Linked DNA regions of Homo sapiens. The protein of the gene in region 2 purifies or fractionates together with the protein of the main gene of each other region. This does not show direct contact. Each region holds a gene or a part of one and is shown on either strand. Other genes may lie near its edges.

What was found. Proteins that work in one complex are often made in the same cells at the same time.
Region 1: the proteins of IFT57 (region 2) and CLUAP1 purify together in Homo sapiens (affinity purification with mass spectrometry; 6 studies listed by BioGRID and IntAct, with this or other methods). This does not show direct contact.

Annotation. Positions count from the first base shown.
Region 1 is NC_000016.10:3,504,004-3,511,040, reverse strand, and holds part of CLUAP1 (clusterin-associated protein 1), read right to left. Parts: intron 6,322-7,037; coding exon 6,210-6,321; intron 4,711-6,209; coding exon 4,626-4,710; intron 2,753-4,625; coding exon 2,573-2,752; intron 1,148-2,572; exon of another isoform or gene 1,072-1,147; intron 1-1,071. UniProt on the Homo sapiens protein: Required for cilia biogenesis. Appears to function within the multiple intraflagellar transport complex B (IFT-B). Key regulator of hedgehog signaling.
Region 2 is NC_000003.12:108,160,312-108,163,461, forward strand, and holds the end of IFT57 (intraflagellar transport protein 57 homolog), read right to left. Parts: intron 2,345-3,150; coding exon 2,166-2,344; 3' UTR 501-2,165; downstream 1-500. UniProt on the Homo sapiens protein: Required for the formation of cilia. Plays an indirect role in sonic hedgehog signaling, cilia being required for all activity of the hedgehog pathway.

The DNA.
Region 1 (7,037 bases), on a different chromosome or scaffold from region 2:
TGGAGCGAGTCAGAGTTTCATTCCTGGACCCCCCGTCTTTTCTGCTGGCTCTGCTCCTACCCTCAAGGCTTTAATACCATCTGTGTGCTGATTGCTCCCCAGCTCCCAGCTCCAGCCTGGGCTTTCCCTGGGCTCTAGTTTCACATACCAGCTACCTGTGCACCATCTCCACCTGGACAGCCAATCGGCGTGGCAAATGGAGCATGTGCAGAACCTTCTCTGCTTCAGTACATGGCAACTTCATCCTTCCAGGGGCTCACACAAAAAACTTCAGAGCAGTGATGTCTAATATAGTAACCAATAGCCACATGTGGCCATTTTCACTTAAATTACTTAAGAATTAAAGAAAATGCAGAACTCAACTCAGTTCCTCAGTTGTGCTTGCCACATGTGGCCAGTGGTTCCCGTAGAGTACAGCACAGAGGCGGAACACACCCATGAGCTCTGCAAGCTCTGCCGCACGGCTGCCCCAAGACCCGGCCTGTAGCACCTGACTTACTCTCAACCCATGCCTCATCCCGTGAGATCTACCATCAAAATATGCCCCAATCTCTAGACACTTCTCTTGCTGACGAGTGTCGCTCCTGGTTAAAAACCCACATGTGAGGACAGGCGCGGTGGCTCACGCCTATAATCCCAGCACTACGGGAGGCCGAGGCAGGCAGATCACCTGAGGTCAGGAGTTTGAGACTAGCTGGCCAACATGGTGAAACCCCATCTCTGCTAAAAAAAAAAAAAAAAATACAAAGCCGGGTGCGGTGGCTCACGCCTGTAATCCTAGCACTTTGGGAGGCTGAGGCGGGCAGATCACCTGAGGTCAGGAGTTCGAGACTAGCCTGACCAACATGGAGAAACCCTGACTCTACTACAAGTAAAAAATTAGCTGGGTGTGGTGGCGCATGCCTGTAATCTCAGCTACTCAGGAGGCTGAGGCAGAAGAATCACTTGAACCTGGGAGGCAGAGGTTGCAGTGAGCTGAGATTGTGCCATTGCACTCCAGCCTGGGCAACAAGAGTGAAACTCCATCTCAAAAAAAAAAAAAAAAAATTAGCTGGGCATGGTGGTGTGTACCTGTAATCCCAGCTACTTAGGAGGCTGAGGCAGAAGAATCTCTTGAACCTGGGAGGCAGAGGCGCAGCGAGCCAAGATCGTGCCATTGCACTCCAGCCTGGGCCACAGACTGAAACTCCGTCTCAAAACAAAACAAAAACAAAACAAAAAAGCTGTGTGTGGCTTTTCAAGCCCAACTATAGACCATGACAAGGCCTCACCTAGCAGGCCTCACAGGGGAAGCTTTCTTCCCTGCAGCAGACTTGGAGCTCAGCCAGTGCACTGTGGTTTCACGTACCCTGCGTGGCCACACTCTTAGGTGCACTCCCAGCCCCGGGGCCTTCATTCCTAGGTCTCCTGCTCTGAGGCCTTGGGCCTCAGAGTAACGGCTTAACCTTTATTTCTGGCTTGCTGCTGTGGTCGCTCCCTGACACCTGACGGCACCTGTCCCACCAGCACTCTGCTCAAAGCCACGGTCACCCCTCACTCTCCAAACAGGCTCGCTGCTTCCAGCCCTGCCGCCTGCTTCGGTCTGATGGCGGCTCAGCAGCCAGAGCAACCCTTTGGACGGGAAATAAGCACAGAAGGTTCCGCTTGGATCCCAACGATTCCCACCTTAGAGGCAAAGACAAAGGCTTTCCAGGGGCTTCCCAGGCGCCAGAGGGTCTGTCAATCCCAACCCTCATCACACGGCCTCCTTGCTTTTCCTCAAACACACAAAACACATTTTTTTTCTTCCCCCCAGACAAGGTCTCGTTCTGTTGCCTAGGCGGGAGCGCAGTGCCATGAACATGGCTTGACTGCCTGGGCTCAAGAGATCTTCCCACCTCAGCCTCCTGGGCAGCTGGGACCACAGGTGTGTACCACCACGCCTAGCTAATTTTTTTCTTTTTTTTGGTAAAAATGGCGTCTCACTATGTTGCCCAGGTTGGTCTGGAACTCTTGGCATCAAAGGATCCTCCCACCTCGGCCTCCCAAAGTGTTTGGCTTACAGGAGTGAGTCACTGCACCCAGCCCAAAACAAATTATCATCCTGAGACACCCTGACGCCACCCGCCACCCGCACAACTCACTCTTTCCCTCCCTTGGATCTCTGCTGGAAACACCATCCAATCCATGAGGCCTTCCTGATCACCCGATTTAAGATCACTCTGGGCAGCATCCATCCCCATCCCAGCTTATTATTCTCCACAGCCTGCACTGCATCTGGCCTTCCACACCTCTTATTGTTCACAGTCTGACTCCCCTAACTGAAGAGAATAAACACACGATTTTTGTCCTTTTTGTTCACAACTGTATCCTCAGCGCTTGAATGCTACCTGACAAATACTAAGCTTTTAATAAATAGTTGAATTAGTGGATTGTGACTTTGACTTTATCCAAATGCTGATGAGCACAAAACTGACAAACTGCCCTCAGCTGAGGAGGAAGAAAAGCAGCGGAGCTGTAGCAGACTCCTTCCACTTCAGAGCTCAAGAAATCAACGCTCCATCGCCCACTACAAGGCTTTTGTTGTCCTTACCTTTGAGCCAAGATCAAACTTGAACTTGTTGACATCTTCCTCTACTATTTCAGAGCCCTCCATCCCCTTGGTCTTCATAGCATTATAAAGGACAGATGTGATCTTCAGCAGCTCTTTTACCGCATACCCATCTGCTTGATAAAGCTTCTTAGTGTTGAGTTTTATATGTGCCTTGGTGGCCTATTTTTAGACCAAAAAAAAAAAAAGTTGAAGGCCCTTTCCATGTAATGTCTAAACTAAATCCCATGTAGGTGAGTTGAAAATGCCTCTGCTGACAACTGGGATATAACCTAATAAAAGCAAAGCATTCAAGTGACTCAAACATTGTGAGTGGTTGTATAAACTGGGACAATCTTGATGGAGAGCAATTTGGTAAAAGACATCAAAATTACAAATGCACATATCTTTTGACCCAGCAATCCCAAATCTAAGAACTTATTCTAGGGACACACTCAAACACAAACAAAATGAGATGTACAGGTTATTTGTTACAGCACTGTTCCAAAGAGCAAAGCTTCAGACAACCTAAAAGCCTACCTATATAAATTACATAAATTATGGCAAATCCATGCAAGCAATACCACTCAGGCGTAAACAGAATGAGGAAATTCTATATGTATTTGGAAAGTTCTCTAAAATATACCATTAAGTAAAGCAAGATGCTAAACATCTTGTAGTGTACAGTAAGTACATCAAGTAGAATACAGTACCATTTGTGTAAAACAAAGGAAAAATATATATTTTTATTTGCACACACACACACACACACACACACACACACACACACAAACTCTGGAAGAGATTTAAAATAGTGGTTATTTGGAATGGAACTTGGCCCAGGGCAGATAGGGTAAAAAGTCATTTTACTCCATTTTGTTTCATAATGTTTTTAATTTTTTTTTTTTTTTTGAGATAGGGTCTCACTCTGTCACCTGGGCTGGAGTGCAATGACATGATCCCGGCTCACTGCAGCCTCAACCTCCCGGGCTCAAGCAATCCTCCCACCTCAGCCTCCCAAGCACCTGAGACTACAGGCACGTGTCACCAGGCCCATCTAATTTTTTTTAAATTTATTTTTTGTAGAGACAGGATCTCACTACATCACCCAGGCTGTTCTCAAACTCCTGGACTCAAGCTATCCTCCCACCTTGGCCTGCCAAAGTGCTAGGATTACAGGCATGAACAACCACGCCCAGCCTACTTTCAATTTGTGAGCCATGAAATATGTTATCTATTCAAAAATAAATAAATAAAATTCTTTTTTTTTTTTTTTAAGACAGAGTCTTGCTCTGTTGCCCAGGCTGGAGTGCAGTGGCGTGATCTCGGCTCACTGCAAGCTCTGCCTCCCAGGTTCACACCATTCTCCTGCCTCAGCCTCCCGAGTAGCTGGGACTACAGGTGCCCGCCACCACATCCAACTAATTTTTTGTATTTTTACTGGAGACGGGGTTTCACCCTGCTAGCCAGGATAGTCTCAATCTCCTGACCTCGTGATCCGCCCACCTCGGCCTTCCAAAGTGCTGGGATTACAGGCGTGAGCCACCACACCTGGCATAAACAAAATTCTTAACAAATAATGAATTAAAAGACAAACAAAAAGAACTTCGCTGGTGAAATGGTGCCACAGAAACCCAGCAATGGAATGGTTTTAGAAAGCAAACTCAGGCCAGGCGCGTGGTGGCTCACATCTGTAATTCCAGCACTTTGGGAGGCCAAGGAGGGTGGATTACTTGAGGTCGGGAGTTTGAGACCAGCCTAGCCAACATGGTGAAACCCAGTCTCTACTAAAAATGCAAAAATTAGCCAGGTGTGGTGGCGTGTGCCTCTAATCCTAGCTACTCGGGAGGCTGAGACAGGAGAACCCCCGAGGAGACGGAGGTTGCAGTGAGCCAAGATTGTGCCACTGCACTCCGGCCTGGGCGAGAGAATGAGACTCCATCTCAAAAAAAAAGAAAGAAAAACTCAATTACACAGTTTGAAAGTCGCCCTAACAAGGAGTCATCCTTTCTAGTTTATTTAATTTTACAACTCCACAAAATAAGTGTCCACTAACCATGAACTGGGCAATTGCCTTAATGAAGAAAACTCGGTCCTGTTCAGTATCCACGTCAGGCGGGATGTCAGTCTGGGGCTCATATCTATCAAGAGAGGTAAGAGGAGAGAGCACGGGTTAACCAAGGAGAAAGTCTACTAAAGAGAATGTGGGCAACTGAGAGGACAGCGGGTCTGGAACACAACGCTCTCCAAGTCCCCAAGTGGGAGAGTGAGATCAAGGCAAACTTCAAAAGCAAAACCAAATACCAAGGGAGCAAATCCCCACCTAAGAAAAACAGATTTCAAAAACTAAATGTGGATCTCAGCTTATAAAATTAAATCTCTCTCAGATCTCACCATGTCATGAAGCTAATCAGAACTGCTACCCTGGCTGACAGCCCTTGACTCAGAGATCAGTGCTAGGGCCGATTAGTCAGCTCTAAGCAGCAGCAGAGTTGGTGAAGTTATTTTCTTCAAGGTATTGAAACCAGGGGTCAGCAGACTGCAGCCTCCGACCTGTACAGCCTGCAAGCTAAGAACTGTTTTTACATTTTAACAAAAAGAAGAGACGCAATAGAGATCTTATGAATTTTATATTTAGCAAAAGGTAAAATATTATCTGGTCCTTAACAGAAAAAGCTGCCAACCCTGAATCATATAACATATTCAATTTTTTCACAGAAAAAGAAATCTCCATTATTTCTAATCCAGTGTACTGATCAGAATGTGCAAAAAGGCCCCTGTCACTCTGCCATGAGGGGCTGAAGAGCAGCCTGGCCCAGCATCCTACTGAGGAATAGTCGTCTCCTTTCACGACTTCCTGGTATATTTCCCACTCCCACAGCATTCTTTAAACTCCACTGATTTTTTTTTTTTTTTTTTTTTTTTGAGACGGAGTCTCGCTCTTTCACCCAGGCTGAACTGCAGTGGCGCTATCTCGGCTCACTGCACACTTCGGCTCACTGCATGCTCCGCCTCCCGGGTTCACTCCATTCTCCTGCCTCAGCCTCCTGAGTAGCTGGGACCACAGGCGCCCGCCACCACGCCTGGCTAATTTTTTGTGTTTTTAATAGAGATGGGGTTTCACCGTGTTAGCCAGGATGGTCTTGATCTCCTGACCTCGTGATCCACCCGCCTCGGCCTCCCAAAGTGCTGGGATTACAGGCGTGAGCCACTGCGCCCGGCCTGATTTTGTTTTTTGAGACACAGTCTCAATCTGCCCGGGCTGGTGTGCAATAGCATGATCAGTGGCACTGCAGCCTCAAACTCCTGGGATCAAGTGATCCTCCTGCCTCAGCCTCCTGAGTCGCTGGAACTATGAGTGTGTACCACCCAGGCTCAGCTAATTGTTCTTTTGTGTATGGAGACAGGGTCTTGCTATGTTGATGAGGCTAGTCTTGAATGACTGAGATTATGAAGTGCTGGGATGAGAGCAGTGAGCCACTGTGCCCAGCCACAACTCCTTTGTAACAGAATACAGCTGGGTCTGTCAAATTCCAAAAACTTTCCCTTTTGCAGCATCACAGCTGTGTCCTGTTTTCTAGATGACTAATAAATAAAACCCAGTATTCACTCTTAGATGTCAATAAAGTGCCGTTCGAACCTTTTCACAAGCCAGAGAAGCACTTCAGATACAAGTCCAAAATTGGGTGTACGGAAATTTTCCATAGAAATATGTCGAGGGTATCCCAGGGCTCTCATCATCTCTGTGAAATCTGTCCAAGGAAAAATACAATTCATTCAGTTCCCCATCACACAGCAACTACTTATTAACTTAGATATTGTCTTTACTTTTCCTTCTTATTTCCAACCTATTGACAGCTTTAGGGACTATTTGTCAACTTTCTACAAGGGAAAGCAAAAAGGAGATAAAATTTAAAATACCAAAAATGCTACCTAAAAAGCATATATTTAAGTTCAATGGGAGAAGTAGATGGCTATACATGAAAATGGAATTGAGGGATTAGCTGTGAATTTCATTTCTCTCTTTAGTATCTCATTTCTTTTTACTGCTAAAAGGAAGAAACACCCGTCCTTATAAAATGTCATGAAGAAAAAGTATTTTTAAATGTCAACAGTGGTTTGACTCAAATTCAGCTGATTAAAAAGTGTTTTAAAATGTTAACAGTGGTTATTTCTGAGGGGAATCCGTAGGATGACATTCATGTTTCTGAGTTGTCTTTTTTTTTAATTTTAGTGACCACATAGGACCCAAATAACACAAGTTTTAAAGATCAGTCGCCTTGTATTTAGAGAAATCTTAAATAGAGTGGTTGAACTATACAACCATATTTAGATTTACTATAAAACAGATTAAGAAACAGTAATACTAATACTTGTTGATCCATAGGTTGGGGTCACCTCAGGAAAAGCCTTAGTGCTTTCAAGAGAGCAGGACTTGGAAATGAACACCACAAACATTTGTTGAGTT
Region 2 (3,150 bases):
CTAAGACTTCCTTTTTTTTTTAAAGAAGAGAATTTAGACATCAAGATCTGAGTGCCCACAGTTGTAATTGGGCTGTCACTGCTACTAGGCTCTATCAGAGGACACAACTAGGAAATATGTGTGTGTGTATTACTACATGTTAAATATTTCTATATTTCTATTAATCTATACTTACTTTTAAAAACCCATGAGTTCATACTGATGTTTCTAATTCTAATCCAATACCATAGGAAAAGAACCCATTGTTTTTAATCGCTATCTTGAAACTATACCAAGCACACAGGCTTAATGTCATTAAACTCTTCATGCTATAGAATGGGAGCTAGAAGGTATCCTGGATCCACACAGTGCCAGTCATCTACTCATCCATTTACTAACTCAATACATTTACTAGACACTTTCTATGTGCTGGGCACCTGGCAAGGAATACGGAAATAAAAGACTTTGTCCTATCCTAAAGTAGCTCAATTCATTAGGTAGGATGGAAGAAAATAACAATATAGTATAATAAGCTCTTTATTCAAGGTATGCACAGTGTTCTATAGGAAGAGAGGAGGAGCACAGAACCCAAGCTGAGTTAACTGGAATATTTCAGAGAAGGAAGTAAAAATAGGTGGCTTATACTACTCATTGCAAGAATTTTTAGATTTTTTACATGTCTGCATAAATAATGGGTGTACTTTGCTTCTGATTGAAATGCATTTTAAGGAGAGTTCTGATTTATCTAAAAGCGTTCTCTGCATTGATTGAATTCATCAAAAAACTACTCAGCCATGACAACAGCCATGAAAATAAATTCCCAGGACCAAAGGTTTTCAGTTTTTGTATTAGACTCCTCCCAAAGACCACACAGGAAAAGAGCAACTTCAGATTTTAAAAAATGCTTATTTTCCCATGGTGGGTTTTCTGCCTTTTTTTTTTTAAACAAATTAAATAAACTGGCATATTTGTCATTGTATTGATTGTCATCCTTTCAGGTAGTTTACATACACTTTCTCCTGTCTAAACTTATCTTAAACTAAAGAGAGGTCTAGTAAGGAAAGGGAAAGATCTGTGTATGTGAGCATGTTGGGGAATACATCTAGAAAGAAAAAGCTAAGAAAAAAATAATAATATTCAGTGGAGAAAAGTATTAGGGTAAAAAATAACTTTTTAAAATTATTTTTGTTGTCCTAAACATAAAGCATTCTTATCAAATTTTCTACCACTGCTTTTGAAAATTATTAAAAAAAAAAAATTAACGCAGGCTGTCTCCTGCTTTGTGTTCCCCTGGCCAGTTTTCCCCAGTGCTAATTCTGGCACTCTAATGCTGCTTTTTTCACCAATTTAGAAATCCTAGCCTAGAAAGTTGCTCAGGAAGATGCATAAGTAAAGATCATCAGTACTAGAGGCTGATCTTCATGCGACCTGTCATCGTTCCTTCTTCTACAAAATGGTTCCCTAGTATAGCCGATACCACAGAAAAAGGTAGAAATTGAGACATGCATATGCACCTTCTCTTCATTCTAAGAACAGAGTCAAACATGAGTGACTGACTTATCATCATTCATTTATCCTTTTATTTAGTGGCTTAGATCCTAGAAGATAGATTCCCTATAAAATCATTTTAGCCACGAAATATTCATAAGAAACCAACTTCAAATGTTAATGAGGATACTGAAGTTTTTTTTAACCTAAAAAAAGTGGCAATTTTAGGTAACCATAAAGCTGAGGCAAAGGCAGTTTGGGTTCTTGGAAAGAATCCTGCCTACCATCTTCAGTGGCCTCTGGGCACAAAGCACTTATGATCACTGCAGAGGTGGAGCAAGGTAAAGGACTGTGTCAGCAGTTCATGTTGTGACAGCAGCAGCATCTGCAGAAAACGCAGGTCATATACCTTGGCTTACACAAGGAATGCTATGAAAAATGAGCCACCAGGTGGGAGCTTTAACATAGGTAATGATTAGTGAAAGCTTCTTAGAAAGTGAGAATTTGTAATTTCTTTATTAAACATTACATTCAGTGTAAAGGCTTTAACCATCATAATCACCATGATATAATATGTGAGTATGTATATGTAAAAAAATACCCATTGAACATAAAATTATGTTTTGAAATCTATGCAACATGAAATATAGTTTGATATAAAAAACCCAACTAATCAGAAACATGAAAACCAGTATGTTTTAATAAAAGCCTGTTGCTGGTTCTGGAATAACTGTGGCATGCATGTTCCTAGTCATGTTGGACTTCTCCTTCAGCTTTGATTGGAGTAGTGTGTGTTCCACAATGCCAATTCTAATGTCCATCTCTACAGTTTCTTGCTTCAGTTTTGTTAAGCTCTGTTTAATCTTCACCAAAGGAGCTGCAGAATGAAAATAACATGAAATAAAAATGTTCATTTGGAGTATCAGTGTATTACAGAATTGTATGACATTTTCCTCACTTTGTCTTAAGCCCAAAATAGGGTTAAAAATATAGCCAAAAACTTACTGACATTCACACAGTTTTGCTGTGGCATTTTAAGCACCTGAGATTTTTTAGGATGGAAAAATGATGTAGTGTTTGATGTATTGAGACTAAACTTTCTTCCTTTTCTAGGGGAAAGAGCTGCTAAACAGGTGTTTAAGGATGTGTTCAAGATGATTTTATGAGCTAGTATATTTGTCTGTAGGAAAAGGAAATACAAAAGGGGAAAAGGGGAAGAGAGAATTATCTTTGAGATGTAGATAATGGGCCCACTTAAAACATATTGCAAAAAAAAAATCCTAAACATTCCCTTTTGCAAGATCATTCAGTATATATCAATAGAACTCTAGAAAATTTTTCTAGGGCATAGAAAAGCCTTCGGCAATCACTACTGGCCCATATCAAAGTAACCTGCTCACAATGGAGGATGATTACCAGAGGATGATTAATTCTTCTCTATTTGACCCCTGCCCAGTCAGTTCTACTGGGGAGGAGGGAAAATAAACTACGGGTTATCACATCACTGCCTTAGTGTCATTTGGGCATATACTTAGTGCCCTTTTGTATATAAAATAGAAAAAGTGAAGCTCATTTGATGAAAACAGAACACAATATTATTTTTTAAACTGGCATAACAAAGTACATATTTAAATATTTCCCACTCTTTGAATCAATAGTTTGAATGTTAAAAACCTCTAAATT